Linked DNA regions of Homo sapiens. The protein of the gene in region 2 purifies or fractionates together with the protein of the main gene of each other region. This does not show direct contact. Each region holds a gene or a part of one and is shown on either strand. Other genes may lie near its edges.

The links.
Region 1: the proteins of NMNAT3 (region 2) and SPTB purify together in Homo sapiens (affinity purification with mass spectrometry; 2 studies listed by BioGRID and IntAct, with this or other methods). This does not show direct contact.

Annotation. Positions count from the first base shown.
Region 1 is NC_000014.9:64,789,832-64,800,338, forward strand, and holds part of SPTB (spectrin beta chain, erythrocytic), read right to left. Parts: intron 10,104-10,507; coding exon 9,916-10,103; intron 8,016-9,915; coding exon 7,898-8,015; intron 6,885-7,897; coding exon 6,726-6,884; intron 5,809-6,725; coding exon 5,506-5,808; intron 4,787-5,505; coding exon 4,636-4,786; intron 4,037-4,635; coding exon 3,166-4,036; intron 2,026-3,165; coding exon 1,888-2,025; intron 1-1,887.
Region 2 is NC_000003.12:139,574,788-139,585,294, forward strand, and holds part of NMNAT3 (nicotinamide/nicotinic acid mononucleotide adenylyltransferase 3), read right to left. Parts: intron 8,533-10,507; exon of another isoform or gene 8,422-8,532; coding exon of another isoform or gene 8,140-8,421; intron 4,269-8,139; coding exon 4,085-4,268; intron 3,064-4,084; exon of another isoform or gene 3,005-3,063; intron 1,208-3,004; exon of another isoform or gene 796-1,207; intron 1-795. UniProt on the Homo sapiens protein: Catalyzes the formation of NAD(+) from nicotinamide mononucleotide (NMN) and ATP. Can also use the deamidated form; nicotinic acid mononucleotide (NaMN) as substrate with the same efficiency. Can use triazofurin monophosphate (TrMP) as substrate.

The DNA.
Region 1 (10,507 bases), on a different chromosome or scaffold from region 2:
GCGACTTGGACTGGCTCATGCAGAGACAGGATTTGGAATATGTAGAGGGAGGGAGAATGCACCCTGAGGGAAAGAACCGCAGAGGCATGAGGCGACACTGGGGGTGGAGGTATAGAATGAGCATTGTTCTGAAAAATAATTGAAGAGCTATACACGGAAGAGGAACCAGGGTAAGTGTGATATCTCTCAAGGGCAGAGCCAGAATCAATATGTACGCATTTCAAGGAGGCAGATTTCCACTCAATGGAAGAGCAAACTTTTTAACCAAAAAGAATTGCCCAAAAATGAGATAGGCTGCCGGGTGAGGGAGTGAGTTCCCCATCACTGGCTAGACTGGGTGACTTCTCAGGTTCCTTTCAACTCTCAAATTTAATTTCATGCCTCGGGTTTTTTTCTCACTTAAGGATGGCAGGTACCTTGATATTTTTCTCTTGGGGATGGGGCCTGTTTTAGGGGTCTGTAAAGATCAACATTCTCAGACTATAGTTTATTGTTGAGCTGATGAGTTCTTCCTCTCAGGAAGTTTCTCTGGTTTAGACCTGCTCTAGTTTCCTCAATTATGCAGCAATTGCAATAATCTCTACCACCTCCTGCCCACCAACACACACAAACTCATTACCTACAAGGCGAAAGAAGAGGGAAGAGGTATTCTCTTCCTTTGTAAAACATCAGATTGACAAAGGAATCTCCTAAACCGCACTCTGCAGCTTGGGCTGCTAAGACAATCATCCCATTCTAGTGGCTCTAAAGAATTCTGGTCATCGCTGCCTCCCCTTAGCCCCCCAGTGAACTCTCCACTGTGCCGATCCCTTTCTTTACAATGGAGTCTTCCCTAGGCCCACCTCCCAGATTGCCTCAGGCAGAGCAACGCTCAGGCACAGGTGTGGGGAAGGGGCTGGGGTAATGGGGAGGTGGTGAACATGTGGCATTGCATGTGCAGGGCCCACGGTAAAGACAGGGAATGCAGGCATTTGCGGTGTCCTCAAAGATCCTCCAGGAACTCATGGGCAATTTCACCCCACACTGAAAGCACCCCCTCTCTAAAGGCTCCTTGGGGCCTATTTTTTGTTCTGGCCACAAAGCTTGCTTAAGGCTCCCTGCTAATTCTCCTCTTCCTTCAAGCCAGCCTCATTATCGATACTGCATTTGGCAGAGGCAGGAGCATTATTTTATGGACAGTACTTAAGAGCTCTCAGAAAGCAATTTTCTCTGCCCAAGAATGTCCAGGGAAATATAGCATGAGAAGCATATGGCCTGATTCTAAGTTTGGGCACACTTGGGATGTGCCCTCCATCACACATACACACCCACCCTCCCCAGGCACAGCATTCGAGCCTCCCAGGACTCGTCTCTCTCCCTCCCTGGGCTGTTCACCACCTCAATCATTCCTCCTTGCTGCTATAGTTCCAGTACTACTGGGAAGGGGACTGTGGCTGAGACAGACAGGAATGTCGGTGGGGGCGCGGTGGCTTATGCCTGTAATCCCAGCACTTTGGGAGGCCGAGGTGGGCAGATCGCTTGAGGCCAGGAATGAGACCAGCCTGGCCAACGTGGTGAAACCACATCTCTACTAAAAATACAAAAACTAGCCAGGCATTGTATCGCACGCCTGTAATCCCAGCTACTTGGGAGGCTGAGGAACAAGAATAGCTTGAACCCAGGAGGTGGAAGTTGCAGTGAGCCGAGATCGCACCACTGCACTCCAGCCTGGGTAAAAGAGTGAGGTTCTGTGTCAAAAAAAAAAAAAAAAAAAAAAAAAAGACAGGAATGTTGAGGGTATAGAAGTGTTGGTGCATACTAGGTGGACTAAATTTTGGGCCCGGCCCCCAGCAGTGTGTCAGATGTTGAGAGACAATGCCCCCGCCCCATGCCCTACCCACACCCCACCTGGTGTTCAGATGGTCCTGGTACTGCTTCACCTCCCTGCTGCGTGGGTGGCCACTCTCTACCAAGCTGTTGGCAGCGAGGTTCACACCATCAATCTGAGTCATCAAGGTCTTCATCTCCTGGTCCAGGATGTCGAACCTGATATGGGCAAAGGAAAATATGAGGATGGGTGAGGCGGCAGCAGACATTTCCTTGCCAGTGGCACCCCCAGTCTCCAGAACATGTAGCTCTTGCTTTCTCCTTCCACTGCCTAAACCATTTGCCCAGGTGAGGCAGGAGGAAGAAAACAGATATGCTGGCCCTCCTTTCTGGTTCATGGGTTTGATTTCATGAGTTAGCATTGCCTGGAACAGGCCGGGAGAGAGCCAGTTACTTCCTACACGGGCTTCTGGCTCAAGAGAGACATATGAAGGGGAGGGAGGGCTGAAGAGAGGTTACTGTGTATTTGTGTGGGGGATGTCAATTGTCACAAGGGCCACCTTCCAGGCCTCTGCTTTTCCGGCTGTTGCTTTTGGACTCTGAGTCCAATGCCTTGACATCTTAACCCAAAAGATACCCTTTCCAGCCAGGTGCTCCATTCCTGGGTAAGATAAGGAAAAGCTGCTGGGGCGGTGGTCGGGGGGAATTTGTGGTTCTGAAGGCCGATCCTTCTAGGGTAAGAGCCCAGGACTCTCCAGCATCAGTGCAGCACCACCTTGGCACTGTTCCAGAGAGCGGCCTCTCCTTCTCCTGACTGCCTGAATTCTGTGCTTCAGCTGCTGAGATGCTGCACAGACTGGGGCATGCCTCATCATCTGGGGTGCTGACAAAATCAGAACACCAGGGGTGAGAGTGGCCTTGCAGACAGGGGGTTTGCAAATTCTCTCTGTGGCCCCTCAGAGTCTCCTGGCTTAAGGACTGCCACAGAAAGCTAGAGCTGGCAGGGTCCTGGCCTCTCAACCTCCTTCTCCAGAGTAGCTCCATTTTTCCTCTGTGTGACCTGGGGGTTCCATACACAATTCATCTGAGCAAAGACTGCTATTGCTGAAAAGTAATTGAATAACTGGACTAGATAAATTCCCTTTGTTTGAGGAACACAAGGCCCCAAAGGGTGAAGTACCCCAGGCCACAGAGCCAGAATAGAACTTATGACTCCTAATGCCAGGACTTTGCAACAAAGGACATCCCAGGGCCTCTCAAAGAGACCTTTGCTGATCCAGAGACTATTACCAAACTAGGTGGGAGATGGTGCCCAGGCCTGGGTACAGGGACGTGAGGAAAAGATGAGTTAACTCTGACCTGTGCTGCACGACCTCCAGGTCCTCCAGGGTGTCTGGCATTTCCATCTCGGCCAGCCACTTCTCCTTCTCTCCCATCCACAGCTCACAGGCGTCTGTCTCCCCGAACACCGTGTACAGGTCCAGGGCTTCCTGCAGCCTCTGCTGACGCAGGTCCGCCTGGGCCACCACCTGTTGGTAGAGCTCCCGCAGGGCCTGCAGCCGATGGGTCACATCTGGGGAATCCCGAAACTCTTCGGGGAATCCCTGGGCCTGCTGCTCCAGGTGCTCCATCACCCCACGGCTCTCCTCCAGCTCCTCCAGGAAGTCCTTGTGCTTTTTCCCCAGGGCCCGCGTGGCCCCTTCGTCCTGCCCCACATCTTCACCAGAGAGCAGCCGGTGGGCGTCTTGCAGCCAAGCCTTCAGGTCATCCGCATCGCCCTGGAACTGGAAAAAGTTCTCAGCATCCTGGAGGTTCTTCTTGCAGAAGGCAGCCAGGTCCTTCAGCTGGTCCCACTGTGCCGACACCTCCTTTATGCGGGCCTCGATCTGCGGGTGCCCAAACTGCTTGCGCGCAACCATGCCATGAGCCTCCTGGAAGATCTGCTCCAGGTGAGCATCCAGCCCACGGAGCTCATCCTCAAAGGCCTTGTGCTTGCGCTGTAAGATGAGCACACTGGTCAGGTCTTTGCCATAGTCCAGGGAAGAATAGATCTGCTCCTTCTCCTTGATCCAGCTCTCAGCCTCATCCATCTCCCAGAAGAACTTCCAGAGTCGTTTGGACTGCTCCAGTTGGGCCTTCCGCCCAGCTGCCATGTTGCTCAGCTCCTCAAAGCACTGCTCCAAGTGGCTGATGCGGTCCTGGATGACCTGGGGGTCACAAGGCTGGTACCCTGGAAGAAATAGGGGGAAGGAGGACAAAGTGGGGGATGGGCTTCATTTATGGGCACGCTTCAGATAAGCTGCTAGGTTGGAACTACACAACCCTGAAGCTGCCATGTCACTGGGGCTTTGGGGTTGGATGCAGGGGGGTCCCAGTTGCTCAGAGGGTGGACAGATTCTTTATAATTATTTCCCACTGAACTTCAGGGTTAAGGAAGATAAAAAGTGGGGTTAGTTCTTAATAGAAATGTACAACATAAAATTATTTTTAAATTAATTAAAAAAATTTCAAGGTCATTCTTGAAAGATGCAGTGAGGTCTCTTATTTAAAACAAGAATCTGGAAACCTAAATTGTCTCAGCCATAACTTGAACTAGCAAGGAGAATGAAGGACAGAGGGTGCCTCCTTGGTGATTATAGGTTACCGAAGCAGTTGCCTGCTCTCTAGAGAATTTGGCTGGTCCCTCAAGCTTCTTTCTTGGACCATTACTTGATGAAAGTAACAGAACTTTAAAGTTGGTTCCAGGAGATTTATCCAAGTTGGGTTGTTAGGCCAGAGGTGAGGCTCTGGCATTGGAAGCCTCAAAAGGGGAGACAGACTTGGTCTCACCTTTCCCCTCGGTGAACTTCAGGGTGGCTGCGGTGATGGCCTTCACTTTGTCCCCTTGGATGGCGATGTCAGCTTCCATCAACTTGTGCTTCTGTAGCAGGTCTTCAACCTCCAACAAGTGCTTCCCAAACTCGGCAGACAAGAGGTGAGCCTGGCAAAGAGAACAGCAGAAAGGAAATGAGGAGAAGTGAAGAGACCTACACATTAGGAGAAGAGACCCCTGCAAAGGGCATGTCTCTAGTAATCTGAGCAAGGGTGAGCCAAATGCAGCCAGAAAAGGGCTGCTGCTGAGGATGGAAGAAGCTCCAGAGGGAGAGTGCCTACTGGGGGTGCCCATCAGCATCATCCATAGAACATCTTACAGATGCTCAAGCCCCACACTCATCTACTGCATCGGTCTCAGGGTTGGGGCCTGGCCATGTGTATTTTCACAAAGCTCCAGGGGCAGTCTGATGTGTGTCCTCAGCTGAGACCCACTGCGGCAGAGAGAGAGGAGAGGTTGCCCTCATGCTGGGAGGTCTGGATTCTAACCAGAGTCAAATTGTAATTACTAAGAGCTTGATTCTCCAGGTTCCTGATTAATGTCTGTCTCTTCAAGGCCCTGAAGGTTGGCACCGGTGCTGCCACAAACCCAAGATTTCTCGGTCACCAGGGTACCATGGACCTGGGCTGGTATCACCTGCTGGAGCAGAGTGGACCAAGAGGCAGAGAGGCAGGTGCAGCTAGACACTTTGCTGCCTCAGTTTCTCTATTTTGACTCAGAGATATGACTGGCTGGGAGGTGTCTAAGGAAGCCTATGCTAACTGCAGGGCCACTGAGACCCAAGGTGAGCACTGCAGGGCATGGCGGGGGCGGCCCCCAGGGCCCACCTTGATCTCATCCATCCAGTCGATGCTGTGCAGCATGTCCTGGAAGAGCTTCTGCAGTGCCAGGGTGGTCTCGAGCCTCTGGCGCCGGGACTGCAGCAGCTCCTGCAGGTAGCTCCATAGGCGCAGTATATTGTCCTTGCGGGCCGTGATGCGCTTCTGGTCATGGTAGTTCTCTTTCTCCAGCTCCTGAGCCAGGTCCTCCAGGGCTCTCACCCGCTCCTCGTAGGCAGCCGTGTCGGTCTCGATGGCCTCATGCTTCTTCTTGGCGGCCTCCACAGCTGCCAGGTCATACCCAAAGTTATCCTGCCCCACCGGGAGAAAAACAGGCAGCTCAGTCAGACACCCAGGGGCTCATCCCCAAACTCAGGGACAGGGCAGCTCCCTTCAGAACCAGTGCTAGATGGGAAAGCACATTCCCAAGAAGCAGCTAGTTCTGCCTTACTTTTGCAGCCTGTCTTATCAGACCCAAGTTCCAAAAATTAATGTCTCACAAGAGACTCTAAGAGAAGTTCATGATTTTACTCCCCGTGCCACCCGCGTGGGAGATGCAGCCTGCGTGTTACTAATGGAGCCCCTTGGCAGCCTGCTGGCACTCCCCACATGCCTCGAGTGGACCTGTTGGATTTGGGGCAGGAAGGGGCTGCTTCTCACTCGGAAACCCATGCACCAGCAAACAGATGGTTTATTCACATGCTATCTGGGGTGCGCATACACTCTCCAGTGCTCTCAGAATACTTGTTGCCCCCTTTCTGGACAGAATCTAATTTGATTCCAAGCTTTAAGTGAGAGGGAACAGATGCTCTGATGAAGAATCAGCCCTGGGGTCAATTCTTAGCTAGAATTATGTCACAGCACCAGAGACCAGAGTCCAAAAGGCATGCCTGACACAGACAAGGTGCAGTCTGTGATTTTACCATATCCCCCAAGAACCACAATTTAACATCAACTGAAACCCCAGCTGTAGTTGACACTACAGGCCCACATAAGACAACTTCAGCGGCCAGTTCTAGACTCCAAGGCTCTTTCCTAAAAATGAGATTTAATAAATCCTGGAGAGCTCCTCCCCAGATGCAAATCTTGATCCACTGGATCACGGGGGAGCTGTGCTGCAAGGCACGAGGAGAGGCTGTGAGAAGCCAGCTTGGACTCCAGCCCAGCCAAGAGCTGGGGGCTCTGAAGAATGTCCCCTCTCCTGTCACCCAAAGCATGTCCCTCATTACCTGGGCCACGAGGCGCTGGTTTTCACTGAGCCAGGTCTCTCTCATTGCGGCCTTCCGGTCAAAGCGCCGGGCCAGTTGCTCTAGCTTCTCCTGCCGAATGAGCTCATTTCTCAGGGCCAGCTCCCGCCGATACTCAGCTTCCTCCAGGCTTTCCCAGGCCTGCACAAAGGATGGAATGAGAATTCTTGGGGCACAGGAGAAATGCCTCACTTTGGGGGCTCCACCCCTTTCACCCAACACTGAGTGATTTCTGGAATCAAGGTACAGCCTGATGCTCTTGGGTGACGTGGTAGCAGATTAAAGATCAATAAAAGCCTTTGGCTTTCATGTCTGGGCCCATCAAAGATTCAGAGGGCACTGCTCATGAGTCTCACTTCCCTCTTCCCCTAAACCTGCCTCAGACTCTTGGCCCAAAATAATGTTTTTCACCTCTCTGGATGCTCAGTAAGTTCTTATTGACTAATGGCTACCTCCGTTCAATATGAACTGCCAGGTGGTGGTAAGCCTCCAAGCCTCTGAAATGTCATAGGCATTTCCCTTTGGTTATAAGTAGTTAATATTCCATCTTCAAAGACAAACTCAAGGTTCTACAGAGGATAGGCTACAAAACTGGCTCCAAAAAAATGGACTCGGAGGCTGGGTGTGATGGCTCACACGTGTAATCTCAGCACTTTGGGAGGCCAAGGTGGGAGGATTGTTTGAGCCCAGTACAAAACCAGCCTAGGCAACATTGCCAGACTCTGTCTCTATAAAAAATGTAACATTTAGCCAGGTGTGGTGGTGCATGCCTGTAGTCCCAGCTACTGAGACTGAGGTGGGAGGATCACTTGAGCCCAGGAGGACGAGGCTGCAGTGAGCTGTGATTGTGCCAATGCACTACCACCTGGGTGACAGAGTGAGACCCTGTCTCCAAAAAAAAAAAAAAAAAAAAAAAAAAAAAAAAAAAGGACTCAGGGATGCAGGGCATCTGAACAGGGGGATTGAAGGAGGGTGGGGGAGTAGAGTCTGACCCCTCAGAACCAGGTTCGATAACTCCCCCAAATAGTCAACATGTGGATTAATAACATCAAAGAAAGTGGCTTGGTTTAATCTGGTCCAATGACCATTCACTGTGTCCTTATCGGGAATTCAATCAATCTACTGTCAATGCATAACGGAAAATGCTGTGGTACCCTGTTGATGTCAGACACTAGTTTCCCATCGTGGGGTGTGTACACTTTCTGATTGTTGGCTCTCATCCGGGACTGGATGGTAAAAAGTAGAACTTCCAGATTCCCCTTCTCTTGAAACCTGTCAAGAAAACAGAAGTAGGAAGACTGATGTTAAGATCTCATGGCCAAATTTTTTTGCTAAAGTCAACACGGAACTGTGGCATCTTGAAGCGTAGATAGCAAAGCATATTTCCCTTAAAAACACAGAAAAACTAAAGAGAATCTGTAGGTCTGCTTACCTGTTAAAACATCTATCCTTTTCACCAACTGAGATCTATTAGGGGTTTGGGTCTTTACAATATAAACCAGAGAAAACACAATGGCCACCACAGCATTTATCATTTGCCTCTACATGGGAAGCTGAGGTATTCTGGTAATTCCTGTAAATATCAAGTTGTACGGATCAATACAAAAAAAATTTTAAAAAACCTTCTCTGTGCTGCAAGTGATGAGGGCTTCTTACTAGCTCTCTGGTCAGTTCCTTATTAAGTGAGTCAATAAAACCCCAGAAGCAGCATATTCCGTGGGAGAGCATCCTGCACTGAAAACAGCTTTCACCCAGGTCCTAATGAGCCAGATCTCCTGACAAGTCCTACAGGCCAGATGCTTCCCAGAAGGCAGGAAAGGCTGGGCTCTGAGAGGCTTGTAGGTGTAGGAGACAAGAATTGTCAGCAGGATCGGTGTCTAGCATATGGGGTACAGGCTCCAGGTATCAGGTACTTCCACATTTCTGCATGTACCTAAGTGTCCACCCATTTCTGCATCCTTGACCTGGCAGTCAAGGATCAGCTATATGCAAGGTCCCCACCCTGAGCCCAGCCTAATGGATCTCAGTGCTCACAGGCACTTAAGAGAACTGTGACCGTGAAGCACTGTCTACACAGCCAAGAGATAACACCTCTGTGTGCAGTGACTGGTAGACTCATAGAGGATGCTAACTGTATTGGATTTAGGGCTTCAGAAATGGGTTACTGTCAGACTAGAAACCAGATACTTGTTTATAGTATATCCTAGACTCAGCATTTCACCTTTCCCCATTTGAAAGTCATGAATGCAGAGTGTGGGAGATGGGGGGAAGAGCAGAGCAGAAGGTACCATCAATGAGCTAGAAGCCTATTTCAGAGGATCTGGACAAGCTAATGGCAGATAAGCTGGAATGCCCCGTGTGTATGTGTGTATGTGTGCATGTTTGTGTGTGCATGTGCACATGCATGGTTGTATATATGTATGTGCATTTGTACATGTGGTTGTATGTGCATATATATGTGCATGGGTGCATAGTTATGTGTGCACACATAAATGCATGTATAGTTAGGTGTATGTGTATGAGTGCACGGTTGTGTGTGTATGTTTGTGTGTGCATGCATGTTCATGGGTGCACAGTTGTGTGTATGCATGGTTATGTGTATGCAGGTATGCATGTGTGTGCACGGTTGTTTGCATGCACATGTGTGTAAGCATATGCACACAGGCTCTGCACACACTAGGGTGGGGCAGAGGTCCTGAGAAGCAGGCTAAGTGGTCTGTTGCTGAGCAGTGACAGATGGGAGAGAAAAAGAAGGATGAACTTGACAATCCATAAGGCCCCATGCAGAGAGCTCAGGGGCTGAGAGCACAGAGGTCATCAGAAAACAAGCCCACAGCTCAGTGGCAGACCAGAGAGGAGCTTTCCAGCCTGGGTTCTTCAAAGAGACTCAGAAGCCTATGATTTCCCTCCTGTTCCTCCTCAGGGATATCTGGGAGAAGCCACTGTCTTTGGTCGTGAGTCGAGGTTTCTCATCAATGCTGGTTTCTCTAAGCTGATGGCTTGGGAGAAGAGTGGTGAAGAGGGGCACAAGGCAGGTGACACACATACAGCTCTCTAATCTTGAGGGTGTGCCTTGTGGACACACTTCATAAGGCCCAGAACCTGGCTCTACCTTTTGGTGGTCAGTTTCCCAGCCACTGAGGACCACCCTCCCATGTGCCAGGGCCCTTACTTGGGCGGCTTCTCCACGGTGCGGTAGGTGCTGAAGGCCTGCAGCTGCTGCTGGACGCCCGTCAGCGAGTTGGCAAACTTGCGGCTGTTCAGGACAGTGATGGTCTGCTCGATCCAGGTGAGCAGGTCCGAGGCTAGCCCGCTGTACTTTTCAATCATCTTCTCAGTCTCAATGGCATGGTCAATAACCTAAGGAATCATCTTCTTACTTATTCTCATCAGAAGGGCAATGCCACCACTGAGGATATCAATGAGGACCACAATCAAGGTGCCACGAAATGGGGCTCCCACCTCCTAAGCCCTGGAGTGCTCTAGGCTGGGTTTGTTCCCTGAGCCCAAGTGTGCTGGTAGGGCAGAAGGAGTAGACTGGAATTGGGTGAGGCCCTCCTCTTGCCAATCGGCAGCGAGCTGGCCTGTTAAGGGTTGGGTGCAGTTCCCCTCCCCAGTGCTAGAGAAGATTGGTAAGCTTGCTGTGCCAGGATGCCAGCCACTAGGGGGCCAGGGTTTTGTTTATTTTTAAATGTTCATGAGGAGTCAAAGGCTGCCAGCCATTGTCTTTACTAAACATGAGGCACAGAGATGAATGAGAAATG
Region 2 (10,507 bases):
AAAGATCATGAATGAAAAATTGCTTCCACCTTGCCAAATGCTGGGGAAGTGGCCTGCTGCTGATTATAATTGGGAGGCAGCTCAGTGTTAAGTTCTAGAATTAGACTGGGTTGGAATTCTGGCTCTAACTGGTAGCTCTGGAGTCTTGGTGTCTCTAGTTTCCTCATCTAGAGAATGAGGGATAACGGCAGAACCTGCCCCAGAGAGCTGGTGTGAGGATTAATTGAAACGCTTAGCACCAGCCCATATACAGAAAGAGCCCAATAAGTGTTAGCTGTTATTATCATTACTCTTAGTCTATCTTCCCACCAGATTGTGAAAAGGGACCCCACGGAATTCATCTTTATATTCCTAGCACCCATGAAAATGCTCCTTAAGTCTGCTGAATTCAGGAATGTTGGAAGGAGTGGATGAATGAATACATTTAACCTGGTTCAAAGCCCTTCTAGATCATCTCAGAGACTCAGCAGAGTCTTCTTAGAGCCTGGCTGGACTCAGTGTTTTCATTATCGTTTTACTGCTTTGATTTTGGTAAACTTTATTTCTGAGGATTCACCCTTGGATTGGCATGGGCTCTCACATCAGACTGAAGTAGATTGAGTCTCACCTCCACTTTCTAACTGTAGGACTTGAAGTATTTTACAACCCTTTCTGAATCTCCATGTCCTTATATATAAAATAGGGCTAAACCCACCTACCTCTTGGAGTTGCTGAGCTTACTAGATATACATGAAAGAGCTTGGCACACATAGAGGGTGATTAGTAAAAGGTGGTGGTGATTCTCATTTTACTTACCTTGAAGGTCCTAGTTCAGGTTGACCCTACTTTGAATATTAGCTGGATCTCTGAACTTTGTTGTGGAAATAATTACTTCCAATACAACATGCATTTGCCAGGGACTTCCACTGCGCCTCTATGGGGCATGACCATTAACTGCTTCTTGCTGCCTGCCTGAGTGGTACCTTGGGCCTGTGGATTGACCCTGGGGGCATGTTCTTGGTGTCCTCAGCAGTCCCACTGGTCTTCAGGAAAGATTGGAGGGCAACTGTGGGAGGTGTAAAGCCAGCCACATCATGTTCCCAGCCTGCAGATCCCTGTTTTGAAGATGGCCATAAGCATGGCTTCAGAGCTCCACAGATGGGAGCTCCACGTCCTATTTGTGTGTGACCGTGATTAACGTAGCCTCTCTGAGCCTCAGTTTCTTTATCTGTAAAATGAGGACAACACAAGATCATGTCTGCAAAGAACAAACTATCTTATAGGGAAAGAAGGAATCCTCAGTAAGCTCTACAGTGAATTTACATCATAGAGATGTTTGTTACTATGTCACTATGATGCAGATTCACTACGGACTTTATCAAGAGGACACTAAATGGAGCAAAAGATGGGGTGGATTTCTACCATGCTTCTAAAACCACCTGACTTTACAATTATAACTGGATTTTCAGTCTTAAAAAACTTTGATTTTGATAATTTTCGGAAAGTGTTAGTAATCAAACACAAATGCAGTTGGTACATTTTGGAGATGAAACTTACTCCAAATAATAATTTTAAAAATCTTAATCAGCATTTGATAAAACTGTGTTGACTGTAACAGTGATTCTCAATTTTGGTTGCACAAAATACATATGGGAACCTTTATGAAAATAGCAATGTTTAGAGCCCACCCCTGACAAATCAAAATCTCTGGGGTGGGTGGGAGGAGGTGAGCATTTAAAAAAGCTTATTAAGTGATTTCTGCAGCCAGAGTTGAGACCACTGGTTTGGATGCATCTTGGTACTGATCATAAGCTTAATTCATATACTTGGCAGCTGAAGCTGTGAGCTAGCCATATATTAGAATCACCAGGTAGCTTTTAAAAATCCTGATGCCCCAACCCAGACCAATGACATGGGTACTTTTAAAAGCTCCCTGGGTGATTCCCGTGTGCAAACTAACACTGAGCAACACAAGAATAAAGGAGTTATTTAAAAAAAATTAAAAAGAGGCCTGGTGTGGTGACTCATGCCTGTAATCCCAGCACTTTGGGAGGCTGAGGTAGGTGGATCGCCTGAGGTCGGAGTTGGAGACCAGCCTGGCCAACATGGTGAACCCCCGTCTCTACTAAAAATACAAAAAATTAGCTGGGCATGGTGGTGTGTGCCTGTAATCCCAGCTACTTGGGAGGCTGAGGCAGGAGAATTGCTTGAACCCAGGAGGTGGAGGTTGCAGTGAGCCGAGATCATGCCACTGCACTCCAGCCTGGGCAACAGAGCTTAATTAATAAACTTGGCAGCTGAAGTGGTGGGCTAGCCATGTATTGGAATCACCATGGAGCTTTTTTTGAGACCCTATCTCAAAAAAAAAAAATTAAAAAGAAAATGAATGCGTTCAGTACAATCTTAGCTCACTCCTGTATTTTGCAGCAGAAGCACAAGTAATCGTAAATAGTACTATGGTCAACTCCTATTTATCCATGAATGGCTTATCTGTTTTGAGGACAAATTATGGGCCAGCATTAGGGATTCAGGGAAGGTAGCTAACATTATTAAGTACCTACCATAAACCAGGTGTTTTGCCTACATCATCTCATTTAATTCACACGGAATCCTAGTGAAGTGGGTGATGTCATTTCCATTTTATTAGGTGAGAAATTGAGACTCAGGGAGGCTAAATCACTTATATCAAGTAATTCAGCTAGTAAATTTTGCTCTAAAACCTGTGTCCTAGGCTACAGTGCTTCTCACTGGGTGGAGGAGCAAGCGTCTGTTTCTGCCTACATATTAAAGCTAAATTACTTGTTGGATGATCTATTCTCTTGCTTCTATTCCCCCTCTCTTAGCCTAGATAAATGAGAAATGACTGCATGACTCATTCTAAAAGGATGATCTAGGTGTCAATTTATTCCTTATATAATTTTCAATATAAGGGTCTTTGTTTATACTAATGGGTCATTAAAAAATAAAGAAGAGCATGTGTCATAACAATTATTTTATAATGGCTTTCCTTTTAATTTGGCAACAGGTTCTGAAGCAACACTGTAACTGCTGAATGCTTCTGGCTGCTTCTTTCCACAGTAAAAGGTAAGTAATAAGAACCAGGATATAAAAACTAAATGATTACCTCTACTAAAAAGGTAAATCTTTTTCTCCCAAGTGATTTTGAAGATAAGTTAAAAATGAAAACTAAAACACATTATGAACAGGCCTGTCAGTCATTCCACCTTGTCCCTTTGCCTCCCATTTCCTGCCAATCCTAGTGGTTCTAAATAGACAAAAGACACAGCAATTTGCAATCCCTTCCAGCAGAGCTGGTTGTCATTAGTGATGAGGCAGGCCATACTCACAATCCCAACAGCCAGGAGAGGTGGGACTTCCTGCTTCTCTGGCAATTCCCCCTTAAAGTCTGCAGACACAAGCTAGTGACCCACTGCCCTAACATGCAGGGCTGGCTTGGGGTTTTAAACAGTTTTATTACTTATGCTGAATACAAATAGAAATTCCAGAAGAAAAAATAATCCAGAGTAACTGTTTCTAGATTTATAGTCTTTTTTTTCTATTTCACATAAAAGTCTGGGTTTACAGAACCCAGGAATTGTACAATTAAAAAAGACAGCTTATTCTATAGATGTAGTTTTCAACTTAGACAATGATAAAAATAACAAAAGGTCCCACCTACTGAATATTATTATGTAGTTCTGGGTCAGGAAAGTTATTTACATATAAAAAATCCTCATTCGGTTTTGTTGTCTCCATTTTGCAAGTGAGAAATATGTCTCAGAGGCTTCAGATCACTTGCTCAAAGTCACACAGCTACTAAGTGGTGGCACTAGACCCCAGTGCTACCGTCATCTGAAATAAGGTTGGGTGTTTCCACAAAGTGCATTTGAAAGTACAGTGTTTTGTAATTTTTCTGCTCAGGGACCTCTCTGAGAATGTGAATCTGTTGATCTCTCTCCTGCTAAGTAGAAACTGCTTCTTGGATATTTGCTGAGAAGGTCTGGCAGAAACCCAGCCCCACAATCTGCCCTACCTTTTACCCTGTAAGCTCTGCAGACATCTCCCGTGGCCCCTGGTCATCACACAGGAGAGTGACTACCATTACCTCAGCACCTTCACTGTCTCCATCCACTGTGCCTGCTCACTCTCCCAAGGGTCCACCCGGATCCAGTCGGATGTCTGCAGGGCCAGCCGGGCCATGGCCACTCGGTGATGAGAAGCTGCGAGGTCTTTCTTCCCATAGGTGTCGTTGACAGGAGAGATGATACCCTGGATGACCTGGTACATTCCTAGGTAAGAGAGAGCAGTGGTGTTGCACATACAGACAGATGCTCACCACCTGGCAGCCTGAATTCAGGCAGGTGCTAAATGTCTCCAGTGCCTCATCCTGAGTGGTAGTAGACTCTGGCATTCTCTCATGGGGGAGAAAGGGTAGCTCCCTTAGGCAAGGGTAAAGGCACTACCTTAGTGAACATGTGCTTCTCCTCTAGAGCCTTCTACAACCCGGGTAGCACTGAGAGAAAGGCTTCTCTGCTGAGACAAAGGCTGTGAGGGTGGCGCTCAGGCAAGGGTCCCATACAGCAGTGAGGACAGTTAGGATCAGGATATAGTTGAGGAACAGCATGACTTCCCCTTCTATAGGAATTAACAGGGGCACTATTTTTGCCCTCTATGTGAGGATGAAAATTATATATAGTTTCTTAGCCCAAATGGGGATTTTGAGGATGAAGGACAAAGGGATGGGATTTTAGCGTGAACCAGGGTTGGTGGGTATTGGCTGTAGATGGACTAGTCGCACAGGCCACCACTGACCTGGGAGGAATGTGCTGCTGATGGAGTGGGAAAGCGTACTTTGAAATAGCCATGGACTGTGCTCACTAACCATGATAACTGCCCTGTAGATCGTCTAAACCACATGGGATTCATCTGGGGAGAGAGAAATTTTTGTGTGTTAAGCTTCTAAAACTGGAGGATTTATTATTGCAGCTAGCCTAGTCTATCTTGACAAATATGTTATTTTGAGACATTCCCTGTTATTCCTAGTTTAAGAGTGCCTGCCATAAATGAACATTGAATTTTATTAAATGATTTTTCTGCAACTCTTGATTGTGTGATTTTTTTTCTCCTTTACTTAGTTAATATGGTAAATTGCATTGATTAATTTTCTAATCCTAAACTAACACTGCATTCCTGAGATAAGCCCTATTTGGCCAAGATATATTACCTTTCTTGTGTACTGGTGGGTTCACTTTGCTAATTTGTTTTTTAGGTAGTAAGACAGGTCTATAATTTTCCTTTCTCTCACTGTCCTAATCAGATTTTGGTATCAAGGTTGTGCTAGCCTCATAAAAAGCGTTGGAGAGTTCTCTCTTTCTATGCTGTAAGAGATCTTGTGTGTTAGGACTGAAATAACTTTCTTTTTGAGACAGAGTCTTGCTCTGTCACCCAGGCTGGAGTGCAGTGGTGCAATCTCAGCCTCCCGAGTAGCTGAGACTACAGGCATGCACCACCATGCCCGACCAATTTTTAAATTTTTAGTAGAGACAGGGTTTTGCCATGTTGGCTAGGCTGGTCTCCAACCCCTGACCTCAAGTGATCCACCCATCTCGGCCTCCCAAAGTGCTGGGATTACAGCCATGAGCCACCGTGCCCAGCCTGAAATAACATTTTTTTCTGAGTGTTTTGTAGAACTCACCAGTGAAGTTTTGTGAGGCTAGAGTTTAATTTGTGTTGTCACTGACAGGAGAGATGATACCCTGGATGACCTGGTACATTCCTACATAAGAGAGAGCAGTGGTGTTGCACATACAGACAGACGCTCGCCACCTGGCAGCCCGAATTCAGGCAGGTGCTAAATATCTCCAGTGCCTCATCCTGAGTGGGAGTAGACTCAGTAGTCAAATTTTTGACTACTGATTTAATTTCCTTAATGATTATAATTCAGAATTTCACTTCTTCATTATGATTTTGGCAACTTACATTTTCCAGGATTTTATTCATCATATCTAAAATTTGAAATTTACTGGCATAAAGTTAGTTGTGATATTCTTTTTTTTTTGGCAATCACCGCTTTAATCAAGCAATGAAAGTTATCACAAATAATAGAACAATTTGCATTGTGTGCATCCTAATTTGATACAACAATAAAGTATGAATTCACCTATGAATTGGTTAACCATACAATTTATCAGCTAAAAGGTTCATTTCTGAGAGTGAAATTACATGTTATTAATAATTATACCCAAACAATAGATATAAACTAGACATAGACAACTCTGGATTTATCCTTACCTGTAAGTATCCTAGCCAACATATTTAGACTGGAACTAATCACAATGAAACATTCAGACAATTGACCTGTCCTCTTCACAAAAGTCTAAGTCATGAAAAACAAAAACAGGACTACTCTAGATTAAAAGAGACTAAAGATACAGAATAACCAAATTGTGATGAGTTTAAATGCTATATGGGGGGAAGCTACAAGAGGTATTTTTGGGTCAATTAGGGAAATTTGAATATGGACAGTATATTAGATGATATGTAATTTTCATTAATTTTCTTAGGAGTGATAATGGTACTGTATTTATTATACAGGAGAACATCTTTTTTTTTTTTTTACACAAGTGTCATAGCAACTTTATTTGAAATAGTAGAAAATGGGAAACAAGTAGTGTAAATGTCCATCAACAGATAAACAGATAACACTAATTGTAGCATATCCATACAACGAAATACTACTTGGCAATAAATGTATGACCTATGGATACATGCTACAACAAAAATGAGTGTCAAGTTATTTATTTTGTGTGAGAAAGCCAAACCAAAAAAAGGAAAAGAGTACATACTATATGATTCAATTTATATAATATTCCAGAAAATGTACCTAATCTATAATAAGTAGATATAGATCATTGATTAGAGATGGGGTTGGAGAGCGTGGAAGTGTGCTGTGGGGAAAGCTGGATGAGAAAGATGATAAAAGTCAGGCAGAAACTTTGGCAGGGGTTGGATATGTTCATTTTCTAACTTGTAGTGATGGTCTCACGGCTGTACACATATGAGACAACTTTAATACTCTTGAAACATACGTAGTTTATTATATGTTAATTCTTCCTCAATAAAGTTATTTTTAAAAACTGTAAGGCAGGCTGGGTGCGGTGGCTCATGCCTGTAATCCCAGCACTTTGGGAGGCCGGGGTGGGGGGATCACCTGAGGTCAGGAGTTTGAAACCAGCTTGGCCAACATGGTGAAACCTGTCTCTATGAAAATACAAAAAAATTAGCTGGGCATAATGGTGTGTGCCTGTAATCCCAGCTGCTAGCAAGGCTGAGGCAGGAGAATCGCCTGAGCCCAGGAGGCAGAGGTTGCAGTGAGCCGAGATTACGCCACTGTGAGCCTAGGCAACAGAGCAAGACTCCCTCTCAAAAAAAAAAAAAAAAAAAAAAAAGAAAAAAAAACCACATGTAAGGCAAAAAACAAAAGAGAAGATCTAACTTCTTAGTAAATGTGTTCACCATTGGGGTGTTTATAAAAGAGATGTCATTCTTTATTAATATAAGAGAATATTCTTATTCTTAGAAAATGTACACTTAGGCCGGACATGATAGCTCATGCCTGTAATCCCAGCACTTTGGGAGGCCAAGGCAGGAGGATCACCTGAGGTCAGGAATTTGAGAGCAGCCTGGCCAACGTGGCAAATCCCTGTCTCTGCTAAAAATACAAAATTTAGGCAGGTGTGGTGGTGGGCACCTGTAATCCCAGCTACTTGGGAGGCTGAGGTGGGTGGATCACTTGAACCCAGGAGGAGGAGGTTGCAGTGAGTCAAGATTGCACCATTGCACTCCAGCCTGGGCAACAGAGTGGGACTGTCTCAAAAAAAAAAAAAAAAAAAAAAAAAGAAAAGAAAATGTACACTTAATATTTAAGGGTGAAGTGTTACAAAGCCTGAAACTTACTTTCAATTGGTCAACAAAAAATATATATAATATATAAATACAAGCTCACATATATAATAAAGAGAAATAGAGAAATAAAGTAAATGTGGCAAAATATATAGGTATTCAATGCAACTCTTCTTTCAAATTATCTGTAAGTTTGAAGTTTTTTCAAAATAAGTTGGAGGGAGGAGCAGTCCAAAAAAATATATATATATTTTTTACCTTGAAGTCGCTCATCAGTGAATATTTTGTTTGTTTGGTTCCAGGTGCTATCTATAAATATAATTTTTTTCAGTGTTGTGCCTTTGCACTTGCTGTCATTCAAATCACAGAACGCTTGTTCTTCAGTTCTTTTGCGTTTAAAAGATGACTTGTCAGGGTCATCATTTTTGCTGCTAACATTATTTTGAATCCTTTTTTGCAGATGAAAAGAAATATCTTTTATTGAGATAGACTGAGGTCCAGGAAAAACAAGTGCAACTTCATGGTCCTTTTCTTCATATTCTGGAATACAAGAAAACGTGTAAATGTTTGCAAATTCAGGTGCTAAGAGTTTTGCATGTATAGCAGTACTTTTACCATCTGTTTCATTTGGATGTTTAATGATGTCAATCTTCAATGGAAGTTTCACAAGTGGAATCTGTTCAATAGGTACATTTTCAACTGGAATGTAACATGTAGAGCAGTAGAACATTCTGGAACCACCACATTTGAGACATTTTGATCTCCCACTTTGCTGAGCTTTTTGAAGAACTTCTTGAGATGCTAAACATAAGTTTTGAAGGGGATCTTCTGAAGCTATGGAAGTAGTTTGTGACTGTTTTGTTTCCACAAAGTTTGAATTATTTTCTTCACTTCATTTGAGAAATATAGGTGGATTGAGAGACATTCTTCATTCAAACAAAAGTTTAACAGCTATTTCTAAAACACATATCATCTGAAGCTATGGAAGTAGTTTGTGACTGTTTTGTTTCCACAAAGTTTGAATTATTTTCTTCACTTCATTTGAGAAATATAGGTGGATTGAGAGACATTCTTCATTCAAACAAAAGTTTAACAGCTATTTCTAAAACACATATCATATGTGCACTGCGAGTCCTCGAACAGCTCCACGCGTCTCCAGCTCTGCCCAAGCCCGAGCCACGCGACGGGCTGTGATCGCGCACGGACCAGACGGTATGATATTCTTTTATCTGTTTAATGTCTTTTATCTGCACCATCTGCAGTGATGCCCATTTTCATTCCTAATGTTGGTTGTGACTTCTTTCTTTTTCCTTGGGCAATATTGCTAGAGGCTTGTCATTTCATTAGTTGGTTCTTTTCAAAGAACCAACTTCTGGCATATTAGTTTTCTCTACTGAAGCTTTGCTTTCTGTTTCACTAATTTCTGGTCTTATTTTAAATAATTCTATCCTTCTACTCTATTGGTGTTATTTTGCTATTCTTTTTCTAACTTCTTGTGATGTATGCCTAACTAATTAATTTGCAGTCTGCCTTCTTTCCTTGAGAACTTGTTTGGAGGTTCTAGCAGAGGAGTGCAGCTACTTGTATACCCTTGACTGAAGACCGGTCCTCCTCTATCGGGGATGGTCATCCTCTTCAGCCGAGCACGCAGCTTTGGGAGGGATGCACATGGAGCGGTGAGGGAGGAAGGGGAACCCGTCTAGGCAGCCAGATCAGCCGAATCAACTCTGGCAATCAGTGGGGTGACAGATGTCTCAGCCAGATCACCCTCACATCCTTATTTCCTACTATATACAGTTCAGGCTATAAAATTGCCCTCTAAACAATCCCACAAATTTTGATATGTAGTGTTTTCATGATCATTCAGTTCAAAGCATTTTCTAATTTCCATTATGATGTCTGTTTTGATCCATGACTTATTTAGAAGTATTTTTCTTAATTACCAAACATATTGTGATTTTTGGTTATCTTTTGTTATTGATTTCTAGCTTAGTTGCACTGCAGTCAGAGAATATACTCTATATTGATTCAATCTTGTGAAATGTGTTGATATTTGATGTCCTAGTATATGGTGAGTTTTGGTAAATGTCCTACGTGTGCTTAAAAAGAATGCATATTCTATGGTTGTCAAATGTAATGTTCTGTCCATTCAGTCAAGATTACTAATTGTTTTGCTTAAATCTATGTTCTGATTTTTTTGTCTGCCTCTTTTATTAGTTATAAACAGAGGCATGTTAAAATCTCTCACTATGATTGTGGATTTTCCGTTTTTCTTTTTAGTACTTTCAACTTTTGTTTCATACATTTTCAGGATTGTTTTATAGCTCAGAATATGACCTATCTTAGTGAATATTCCATAGGTGCTTGAAAAAAATATATATTCTGCTGTTGTTGGATGATGGAGAGTTCTGTTACACATCAATTTGATGCTGTTGTTGAGTGTCTTTATTTCTATATCCTTGCTGATTTTCTGTCCAGTAGTTCTGTCTAGCAGTAGTAATTGGCAATTGTGGGGTGTTGAAATCTCTACCTATAATTGCGAATTTGTCTATTTTGCCTTTCAGCTCTATCAGTTTCTACTCCATGTATTTTGGGATCCTGTTTTTGGTGTGCACACATTTAATGA